3 linked regions of the Homo sapiens genome follow. The protein of the gene in region 3 interacts with the protein of the main gene of each other region in a pairwise test. Each region holds a gene or a part of one and is shown on either strand. Other genes may lie near its edges.

Evidence for each region.
Region 1: the proteins of CADPS (region 3) and SEC23A interact in a two-hybrid assay, tested with the Homo sapiens proteins (one large-scale study listed by BioGRID).
Region 2: the proteins of CADPS (region 3) and TSEN2 interact in a two-hybrid assay, tested with the Homo sapiens proteins (one large-scale study listed by BioGRID).

What each region holds. Positions count from the first base shown.
Region 1 is NC_000014.9:39,040,584-39,044,317, forward strand, and holds part of SEC23A (protein transport protein Sec23A), read right to left. Parts: intron 2,290-3,734; coding exon 2,203-2,289; intron 305-2,202; coding exon 149-304; intron 1-148.
Region 2 is NC_000003.12:12,504,903-12,508,636, reverse strand, and holds part of TSEN2 (tRNA-splicing endonuclease subunit Sen2), read right to left. Parts: intron 3,484-3,734; coding exon 3,406-3,483; intron 1,930-3,405; exon of another isoform or gene 1,802-1,929; intron 1-1,801.
Region 3 is NC_000003.12:62,756,917-62,760,416, forward strand, and holds part of CADPS (calcium-dependent secretion activator 1), read right to left. Parts: intron 1-3,500.

The sequences.
Region 1 (3,734 bases), on a different chromosome or scaffold from region 3:
AAAAAGTAAGCACTGATACCTTCCCCACCTATCTCCTTACCTTTCTGTCTGCTTTATGAAGCAATCTATTAAAATCAGAAGGCAAGCAGGTACACCTCACTGCAAACCTAACAACAAACAAACACACAAACAAATTAACACTACTTACCTGGCTGCCTCCATGTTCAGTGTCAATGTATCTTGGCATTGGAAATCTGGAGTGAAGAATTTCCTGTGCATCATCCACTGGGGCTTGCAGAAGGTGGCGGAAATTTTCATACTCAGGCATATCCTGGTATCCTGACTTCCGCCACTGTGCTATGGTCTAATTTTAAAACAATTAAAGAAATTACTTTAAATTTCTTGCCCATCCAAAAATCTTGAGATTTTTCCAAAGAAAATAATCTTTAGAAACTAAAAAAATTATAGACCATTATTCCATTTACCTCAATTTTTTAAAAGTTACAATTTCAGTAGAGAAAATATTCTTAATAAATATAAAATTAGAATATTTCTTCTCCTTTAAAAGTAAAATGAAAGAATACTTACATAAGTCAGAAAATTTTTAAAACACTATGCTTATCAAATGAATGTTAGCTAAAAGCTATCTACCTAAGCTTATGATACGTGAAAGCAATTGAATCAATCCATAGGTAAGTAGCTCTAAACACCATGTAATTAAATCATCTAAAAACTTATGCCTGGTTTATTTTCTAAGTTAGCTGAATCAGTCAACACATTCTTTTATAGCTTTATACCTCTGTATAAAACAATCATGTGCATTTCTGATTTCTCCTTTAACAAGCTACTTGAAAAAGTAAAAATCACCATAAAACAAAGAAAAAGCAAAAAAAAAAAAAAAAAAAAAAAAAGCCCTGTCAGTATTACAGGTTTTTTTTTTTTTTTTAACAAAGGCAAGAAGTTAAAACAGGTATTATTCTTAACAAGTAAAGGGCATTAGAAACTGGTATCAATTAAAAATAATTTACAATAATAATAATTAAATCTTTTAAAACTCCTGGGTAGGTCGGGCGCGATGGCTCACGCCTATAATCCCAGCACTTCGGGAAGCCAACACGGGCGGATCACCCGAGGTCAGGAGTTCGAGACCAGCCTGGCCAACATGGTGAAAACCTGTCTCTACTAAAATGCAAAAATTAACTGGGCGTGGTGGCATGTGCCTGTAATCCCAGCTACCCAGAAGGCTGAGACAGGAGAATCGCTGGAACCCGGGAGGCAGAGGCTGCAGTGAGCCAAGATAGCGCCACTGCACTCCAGCCTGGGTGAAAGAGCAAGACTGAGTCTCAAAAAAAAAAAAAAAAAAGTCCTGGGTAGTACTACTTCAAAGAATATTTTGAGTAATGTCTTTACTATTACAGTACAAATCTTTTCTAAAAATTTTTTTGTAGAGACAGGGTCTCACTATGATGCCCAGGTTAGTCCTGAACTCCTGGGCTCAAGTAATCCTCCTGCCTTGGCCTCCCAAAGTGCTGGAATTAGAGGCGTGAGCCACCACACCCAGTCACAGTGCAAATCTAAAATCATTTACAATTAAAGCAACTGAAAAAATAAATCTGCAGAACTTAGTAAAACACTAGACTGTAAGTTTGAGAACAGATCTGTGAAAAAAGAACACATCTATATCTTCCAAAGCATCCAGAGGAAGCACTTAACAATTGGCTGAATGAGTAACTGCAGGAATGCATCAAGGTCTGCTAAATACCTGGATTAAAGCTTAATAGCTACTAAAATCTTCTGCTCTCTGTAATCATTTACCATTCCAATGAAGTTACAAATTTTAATTCATGTATGCTTTAAATGAGTTTTCAAGATCATGTAGAACACTTAATAATAACTTATAATGATTGCATAACGTAAAAGGAAAGCCTGCCCACTGACAAAGGCTGACTTTTCCCCCCTTAATGTTTTCAGGTAAAACCCAAAAGTGCCATTTGTCTATGTACAGTCAGTGTTCTTACTTTCACAACACTGTGCTTTGCGCAAAATCCAATTGTGTGACAAATGAATAAAATAATCACATGTGGGTCAACTGCAATTGAAGCCTAAAACCTTATAGTAGGCAGCATCATATTTTATTATTTTATAAAAATGGAAATCAAAGTTTATCATAGATGAAACACTAGCCATACAATTAGAAGTAAGAAAACCTTTCTAAGTAAAAAGACTTTACATGCATAGCTTTAAATGCTATTGAAATCTTACCTCACCATGATAAATCAAAATCTGGAAGAATGTGTCCATGAGAAGAATACGATCTGCAAGAATGCTACTGCTATCAAGAAGAACCGGCTAACGTAAAGAAAACAATGAGAAATGAGGAAAAAGGAAAAATAATCTACTCAATAATATAAAATAGATGTTTCCAGGTTATTTTCCAAGTTTCTTTTATTTATTTATTTATTTATTTTTTTGGAGAAGGGTCTTGCTCTGTCACCTAGGCTGGTGTGCAGTGGCATGATCTCAGCTCACTGCAGCCTCAAACTCCCAGGCTTCAGCAATCCTCCCAACTCAGACCCCCAAGTAGCTGGGACTACAGGTGTGTAACACCATGTCCAGCTAGTTTTTTCATTTTTTTGTTTGTAGAGATGGGGTCTCACTATGCTTCCTAGGCTGGTCTCAAATTCCTGGGCTGAAGTGATCCTCCTGCCTTAGCCTCCCAAAGGCTGAGATTACAGGCTCAGCACTAAATTTGAAACTTAGGCCATGATGGCCTAAATTTGAAATTTATATTTTATTACCTAAAATCTCTTGCTATTATGAATTCTTATAGTGTATTTTAATTTTTTAAGGAATCCCTTTAAGCTGAGGTAACAAACAATTTAAAAATAGAGTAAAGTCAAGAAGAATTCAAGGATAACTCCTAAGCCTAAATGGGGAAAGGCCTGGGATAGAGCAAATTTGGAGCACATGGGAAAATAGTTCTGCATATGAAATGAAAGGGAGTGGTCTGAACTGATGACATAAATCTAGGTGTCACATGCACAAAGATTAAAGCACAAAGATTAAAGCAATGGGATTAGACTACATCACTGAGAGGGAAGACAGGGAAAGCCAGAAGATTGATCCCTTAAGCATGTCAACACTTAGAGGTCTGAAAGGGAAAAGCTAGCAAAAGACTGAGAAAGAACGGTGAGTGAGTAAGAGGAAAACCAGGAAGGTATAGGTGTCACAGAAGCCTAGGGCAAAAGGTTTTCAAGGGCTGAGTACTAGTGAAGACTAGGTAAATACTGTTGAGAGCTCTGGTGAGATGTAGGACATTGGTGGTCTTTATAAGAGCCATTTCAATATAATGTTAGGGACAAAAGTCTTACTTATATAGGTTGAGAAGACAATGTGAGGTGAGAAAGTATAAACAACAAATAACTTTTTTGAGTTCAACTCTCACCAGGAGCAGAGAAATGGGGTGGCAGTTAGAGAAAGCGTGGGTCATGGTGGGGGTGTTTTGGCCGTTTGTTATAAACCTGACTGTTGTTATGGTTTCTATGTTAATTAATAAGAATGATCCAGATGGACAGAAAGTAATTATATAGAACAGAAAGAAGATAACTCCAAAAGCAAAACCCTAAGAACATGAAGCTGATAGGATTCATGGATTAAATGAAAAGGTTGAAATTTAATAGGAGCAGGCACTAGGGACAGTGGGATTCCAATTTTCTTCTAAACACCATTCTACATTTTTCAGATGTCTACATGCACGTTATTACTCAGAAGAAAAAAAAGTTACTTCTAAAACA
Region 2 (3,734 bases), about 50 Mb from region 3:
CTGTGGAAGGTTGCAGACTAAAAGCTTCCCATGTCAGCGCTGAGCAGACTTCTAAGTTAGCTGTGTATCACCACTCTGAGTCCCTTAAGAGAGCTGTTGTGAATCACCACAGCAGGGGTGAGACCCCATTCTGCCTGTGTTCCTGACTAACATTCACAGAAACACTCCGCGGGTACATGCAGTGCACCAAACATAGGTGATTCATTCAAAAGAAATCTGCCAAAACAGAAAGACAAGTAGAGCTAGGTTTAACGGTGTGCTCCCTGAAAACTTCTGGAACACATCTCTGAAATGTTCTCAGGTGCCAGGCAGCTTCTAAGAAGGCAGAGTAACCTCATCTCCTGTCTCCTATTACTCTTGCCTTTCATCAGGGGGTGTTCAAGAGGAGGCAGCAGGCAGCAGCAGCCTTTAAAAAATTTGTCAATAAAAGACAGCAGCTGGTCAACTGGAACAGTGCAGCTGAACTCCCAGCATCTGACACGGAATACCCTTCGCCTACAGCTGCCACCTCCCAGGCCAGGCCTCCAGCCCACCCTCCATACTGATGCTAGCTCTGGTCACTGCCACTCCCCTACGGAATCCCCTGCAGTGCCCTGCTGGCCCAGGACCAGGCCAGACCCTGACTCATGGACACACCCTCCCCCATCTGGCATTCGTTTTGGCAGAGCTATCTGGAAGAGCCTTTACTACCCTGTGTCCATGTGGCAAGCCCCATTTATCCTTTACTATCCTCAGCTATCATGACTGCAAAAGCTTTCCACCTCAGCCCTGCAAGATGGTCTCCACCAGCTTCGATGCAAATTCCCTATCTTGTACATTCATTCATTTAATAAGTATTACGCACCTAATAGATGTCAGGCATTGGGCCCAAGGAAACAGGAAGAGCGATACTGACAAGATCCATATGCCACACTATGCTTATCACACTGAACTGTAATGATTTCTGGGCTATCTTTAAGACCAAAGTCACATTCTACTTATTTCAGTATCGGTAGCACTTAGCCCAATGCCTGGCACATAGTAGGTACCCAATGGGCATTTTTGTGATTGTAAAAAAGAAGGTTCCAACAAGCTGCTAATTAGCTTTTACAAGTAACTTAATAATGACAAAAATAGCAGGCACTAACATTTATTGAGCATTTACTATATTATCAGGTACTGTCCTGACCCAATTACATGTATTATTTAATTTCCAGAACATCCTATGAACAAGATGTTACATAGCCCCCACTTTACAGAGAAGAAATCTGAGGTTCTGACAGGCCAAACATCTAAGAACGGGTACATGTGGGCTATAAAGCGCTCCACAGTGCTGGGAATGCCTACGCATCTGCTGTTCAATACAGTAGCCAGTGGCCACACGTGGCTGTTCAGTGTTTGAGACGTGGCTGGTGCAACCGAGAAAAGGAATTTTGAATTGTTTATTCTATTTTATTTTATTTTAGAGACGGAGTCTTACTCTTTCACCTAGGCTGGAGTGCAGTGGTGCAATCTCAGCTTACTGCAACCTCCGCCTCCCGGGTTCAAGTGATTCTCCTGCCTCAGCCTCCCGAGTAGCTGGGATTACAGGTGTGTGACACCACACCCAGCTAATTTTTGTATTTTTAGTAGAGATGGGGTTTCACCATGTTAGCCAGGATGGTCTCGATCTCCTGACCTCGTGATCCACCCGCCTCGGCCTCCCAAAGTGCTGGGATTACAGGTGTGAGCCACGGCGCCCGGCCCCCACAATTACTTTCCTGTGGTCTCAGCTATAAAATTACCAACATGGATGTGTTCCATAGCACTTCTTGGGACCTACCTGTATGCCAAGAACCACACTGGACACTGCAGGAACTATCAAAGAAAGCCATCACAGAGCTCCTGGAGAAGAGGGGAGCCCAAGAAGCGGTCCTAGCTTCAAAGGCAGAAAAGACATTTCTGTGTGCACTATCAACATAAGCAAGAAAAGAGGGTCTGAGCATAAAGTGACCACAGGTTAGAGGAACTCCAGGTCACTGGGACAATATGATGCAGTTTATGGAAGGCCACTTTTAGCCACTTTTTTTTTTTTTTTTTGAAACAGGATCTCGCTTGTGCAGTGGCGTGACCTCGGTTCATTAAAGCCTCGACCTCCCAGGCTCAAGCAACCCTCCCACCTCAGCCACCCAAGTAGTTGAGACTACAGGCATGCACCGCCACACCTGGCTAATTTTTGTATTTTTTGTAGAGATGGGGTTTTGCCATGTTGCTTAGGCTGACCTTAAACTCCTGGGCTCAAGCTATCTGCCTGCCTTGGCCTCCCAGAGTGCTGGGATTACAGGTGTGAGCCATGGCACCAGGCCCAAGCTAACTTTCAAGAATGTAGCTACTGCATTAAGTAGAGGGATCCTGCAGAAGGAAATAAATCCATTTACTTAACTAGCAGTCACTACATGATCTGAATCATGTAGCACAGTATATGAAAAGTAGAGACTCCATGAATATACCAAACAATAGCGACTTGTACTCTTTAAGTGGATAAATTGTATGGTATATGAATTATAGTATTTTTGAAAAAGCTAGTGAAAATTAGTAACAAAATATTCAGCCAATCCGAAATCCACTTTTTTCTTCTTTCCACCCCCCTACCCCCGGCATCACCAGTCAGCATCTGTTAACAATCTGAAATCTTTTTATTCTTTTTTTTGTTTGACACAGAGTCTCACTCTTTCGCCCAAGCTGGAGCGCAGTAGTGCAATCGTGGCTCACTGCAGACGTGACCTCCTGGGCTCAAGCAATCCTCCCACGTCAGCCACACAAGTGGCTGGACTACAGGCATAAGCCATCACACCTAGCCATCAACATAAAGCCTTTTTTTTTTTTTTTTTTTTTGAGACAGAGTTTCATTCTGTCACCCAGGCTGGAGTGCAATGGCACGATCTTGGCTTACTGCAACCTCCACCTCCCGGGTTCAAGCAATTCTCCTGCCTCAGTCTCCTGAGTAGTCGGGATTACAGGCATGAGCAATCACTCTAATTTTTGTATTTTTGGTAGAGACAGGGTTTTACCATGTTGGCCAGGCTGGTCTCGAACTCCTGACCTCAGGTGATCCTCCTGCCTTGGCCTCCCAAAGTGCTGGGATCACAGGTGTGAGCCCCCGCACCCGGCCTAACAATCTAAAATCTTAATGAGAAAAGAAGTACTCAGAAAAACCCCTCGAATCTTCTGTGGAATGATTGCAAACACATATCTTAGAACTGATGAAATAAAGGCTGAGGAGTGAAAGGCAGGCCTACTTGGGAGCTACCCATAGTGATTTCAATACTGAATTACAATATTCAATAATTGAATTACATACAGAACTACACTGTGAGGTAGGTTCACATATAGTGTAGTTCAGGCCCAGAGACCGATGGCTGAAATAATAATATGTTGAAAACATACCTCTTCTAGGCTGAGTTGCAAATACTCAAAGATCCTATATGGATTTCTTCTGCATATTAACCTGTTTCTTTGCACCAACTAAAGAGAAAGAAATACAATATATACAGAACAAATGGAAGCACTACATGTCATAGAGAATGTATTTTAAAATGAACATTTTTCTTATAAATTCCCAGGATTCACATTCTATTGTGTTAATATTATAAAGAATGATTAAAACACAATTTTTTTGAGACGGACTCTTGCTCTATTGCCCAGGCTGGAGTGCAGTGGTGTGATCATAGCTCACTGAGGCCTCAAATTCCTAGACTCAAGCAATTCTTCTGCCT
Region 3 (3,500 bases):
GGAGGAGGGGATTAGGGTTGTTGGTCTTCATTTTAAGGGCATTGGAAAGCCATTGAAAGTTTTAAGCTGGGACACGGCACAAACCAGTTCACATTCTTTGGCTTTAATGTGGAAAAGAGACTGATGAAGGGAGCCAAGAAAATAGGCAGGGAGGCCAGTTGAGAGGTGCTTGTACGAGACCGGGTGAGTGTGATGGCAGTGGGGACACTAAGGGGTTAAGCCTTTGTTGTCAGTGCTAATAAACATAAGGGGTGACTTGAAAACATTCAATCAACAATGAAGCTATATTCTCCTCTACATCTATGCACATTAGTATCCCACAAACCCGAAATGGGCCTCAGTTATAAGCTCTCAGCCCCAGATTCTTTTTTCCTAAAGCCCTTCCACAGCTGCCATCTGCCACTGTTTTTGTGACTGTTTGGTAAATATCTGATCTCCAGCTAGACTATAAGTTCCAGGGAGGCAGGGTAGTCGTTGTTTGTTTCTATTACTGCTTCTTAGTGCCTGAGACAGTGCCTGGCATGTAGCTGGTGCTCAGTAAATATTTGTGGAATGAGTGAATGAACTATAAGAGCAAAGCAGACTCCTCTAGCAGGAAAAATATGGAGCGAGACTATGTCTGGATTGGGGCGAGAAGGTCAACGGGAAACCAGCACACGGTATATTGGTCTCTTAAAACAAGAGACTTAGGCTAGATTTTCCATGGGGCCTGATAACAAGGGGTAAGAAATAAAGATGTTGGCACTTGGGTCCCAGCTGGTGTAACTGGTTGAGTGATGTATTAGTCTGTTCTCACGCAGCTAATAAAGACATACCCAAGACTGGGTAATTTGTGAAGGAAAGAGATTTAATGGATTCACAGTTCCACATGGCTGGGGAGGCCTCACAATCATGGTGGAAGTCAAGGGAGGAGCAAAGGCACGTCTTATGTGGCATGGCAGCAGGCAAGAGAGCATGTGCATGGGAACTCGCCTTTATAAAACCATCAGATATCTTGAGACTTATTCACTATCAAGAGAACAGCATGGGAAAGACCTGCTCCCATGATTCAATTACCTCTCACTGGGTACCCCCATGACACGTGGGAATTATGGGAGCTACAATTCAAGATGAGATTTGAGTGGGGACAAAGCCAAACCATATCAGGTGAACCCTGAATCCTGGGCATAGCATCTGCTTCACTAGCCCCTTCCTTTGTACATAGTAGCTACTCAATAAATACTTCTGAATTACCAGTGGAAGACAAGTCACCTAACCTCCATCAGTCTCACTCTCCTTCATGGTAAACAATGAAGGAATCCAGCCTTTCTTCTTTGCTGAGGATCAAACTGAGAAGACTTTGAAAAGTGGAGGGATCTATCTGTCCTGTGTTAAGATACAACTGCCAGATCCCAGAAAGAGGAGAGATGAGTGGAATGATAAGAACATGGAGGAAAGAGGCCAAAGACTGGGGAGACAGTAAAGATGAATTGCCCAATGGAGACAAGACAGCCATGAGGAGAGAAGGTGGCAGCAGGAAACTATTTCTACAGGCACATCATCTGTCTTGGCTTCTCAGTCTGACAAAGAGGAAGTGGGGCCTGGGCCAGCCTCACCCTATAATGAATACAAACACTAAGTACTGATGTGCCTGTGTGTCTCTAAAACAACTATTCAAACTCAATTGTGCTGGGAGCTCTGTCTGTATTTTGTATCCGTGTTTGTTTCTGTTTTTGCTTTTTAGTGGCTGCCACAAGAGACTTTAACCCCAAGCCCAGTTCTATCTGGGCACATCCATAAATCCTCCCTGCTTTTCTGCCAACTTCCAGACAGGTCATAATGAGAGATGGAAGATAAACAAATAAATATGGAATTGTGAAGGACAGTCAATTCAGCAACTCGACCTCATCCATCAGTCCTTCCCTCCATCACCAGAGCCAAGCAACCTCAAGGTCATTTTAGAAACATACAAACACATCAGTACTTAGTGACTGTTCACATTACAGATGAGGTTGGCCTAGCTCCCATTTGCTAGCTGATAAGCTGAGAAGCCACAGCAGATTCATTCCTGTTCTGAAAAAGCATATCCTTTCAATATAAATAAGAAAAACATCTAGATGTTGGAGTAAGTAAGGTTTGCAAGAAACACACACCTCGTTGCTATTAATAAATGGGCACATAAATAATGAAAGGGGTAGACATCATGGTTAGGAGGATGGGCCCTGGTATTAGAACACCTGGGTTCAAATCCTGGCTCTGTTGCTTGCTAGCTTTGCCACCTGAGCAAGTTACTTAATCTTCCTGGGCTTTAATTTCCTCACCTTTAAGATGGGAGTTATAACAACCTTCCTTTGTAGGATTTTGGTGATCCCTGAATCCTGATTCAGTGATATTATGCCTGCAAGTTGGTTAGCCTGTTGCCTACTATTCGGCTAAGAATGTAATACAAGTTAGCTGTTATTTTTAAATAGAATATCATGCAGCCATGAAAAAAGATATATATTTTTTCATTACCATCCAAAGATGTCCATGATATATGGTTATAATGGACCAGAGCCTTCCAATGGCAGGGGTGAGGTGGGATTGGAGGATAGGAACATGGCTCTGGATTTAGAATACCATAGGAAATAAGACAGTTTACTGATGAGAGTATGCCATTTGTGTGACCTTTGGAAAGGTAGGAAGGAGACTGAAAACAACTGTGTTAAATAAAAGAAGTGGGTCCTTAATAGTTTGTGGTAATTTCCCACCTTAATATGCAAGCCAAATAGTTATCTTGACATGCATAGATACATTGAAAGTACCTGGAAAGATAGAAACCAAAGTTTAATTTTGGTTATCTAGGATGATGGGATTGCAAGTATTTTTTAACCATGTAAATGCAGAGATTTTTCTACATTGTCTGTTTTATTTTTATAGTGGGCATGTTTTACTTTCACGGTCATTTGAAACACATCTTTTCTACCTGGAAAAATACAAATTTTACCTTCTTTGAGGCAAGGTGCATTTTCATTTCTAAAATAAAATGTATTTTCAAATCTTAAAAATCTTCTTCACCAAAAAGTAAAGGATTCTGGGCAAAGTTTCAGAAGCAGATCTTGGGCCATGACCTTGTGGTAGGTGGTGCTAGATTAGGAGCAAAAGTACTTTCCCTTTTCTTTTCTATGCCCTTTTCCCCTGCTCCATCTTGCACCTCCCTTCCTCCATGCCCAGGGAGTGAATTGATTCTATCAACTTTCAACTCTCTTCTTCTATTTCTATGCAGCATATGGACACCATACCACCATGCTCATTTCTAACCTTAATATATTAATATATTCTAACCTTAATATATTAATAATGGAACTGTCCAGGTATATATATTCTCATTTAGTCTTGAGAGCAATTAGGCAAGGAAGGTCCTATTAAAGATGAAGCAACTAAGGCTCAGACATAGCTGAGGTCCCAGAGTCAGTGTGTAACAGGACTAGAACTCAACCCACCTCTGTCGGACACAATTTTTATTTTTAATTTATTTAGAG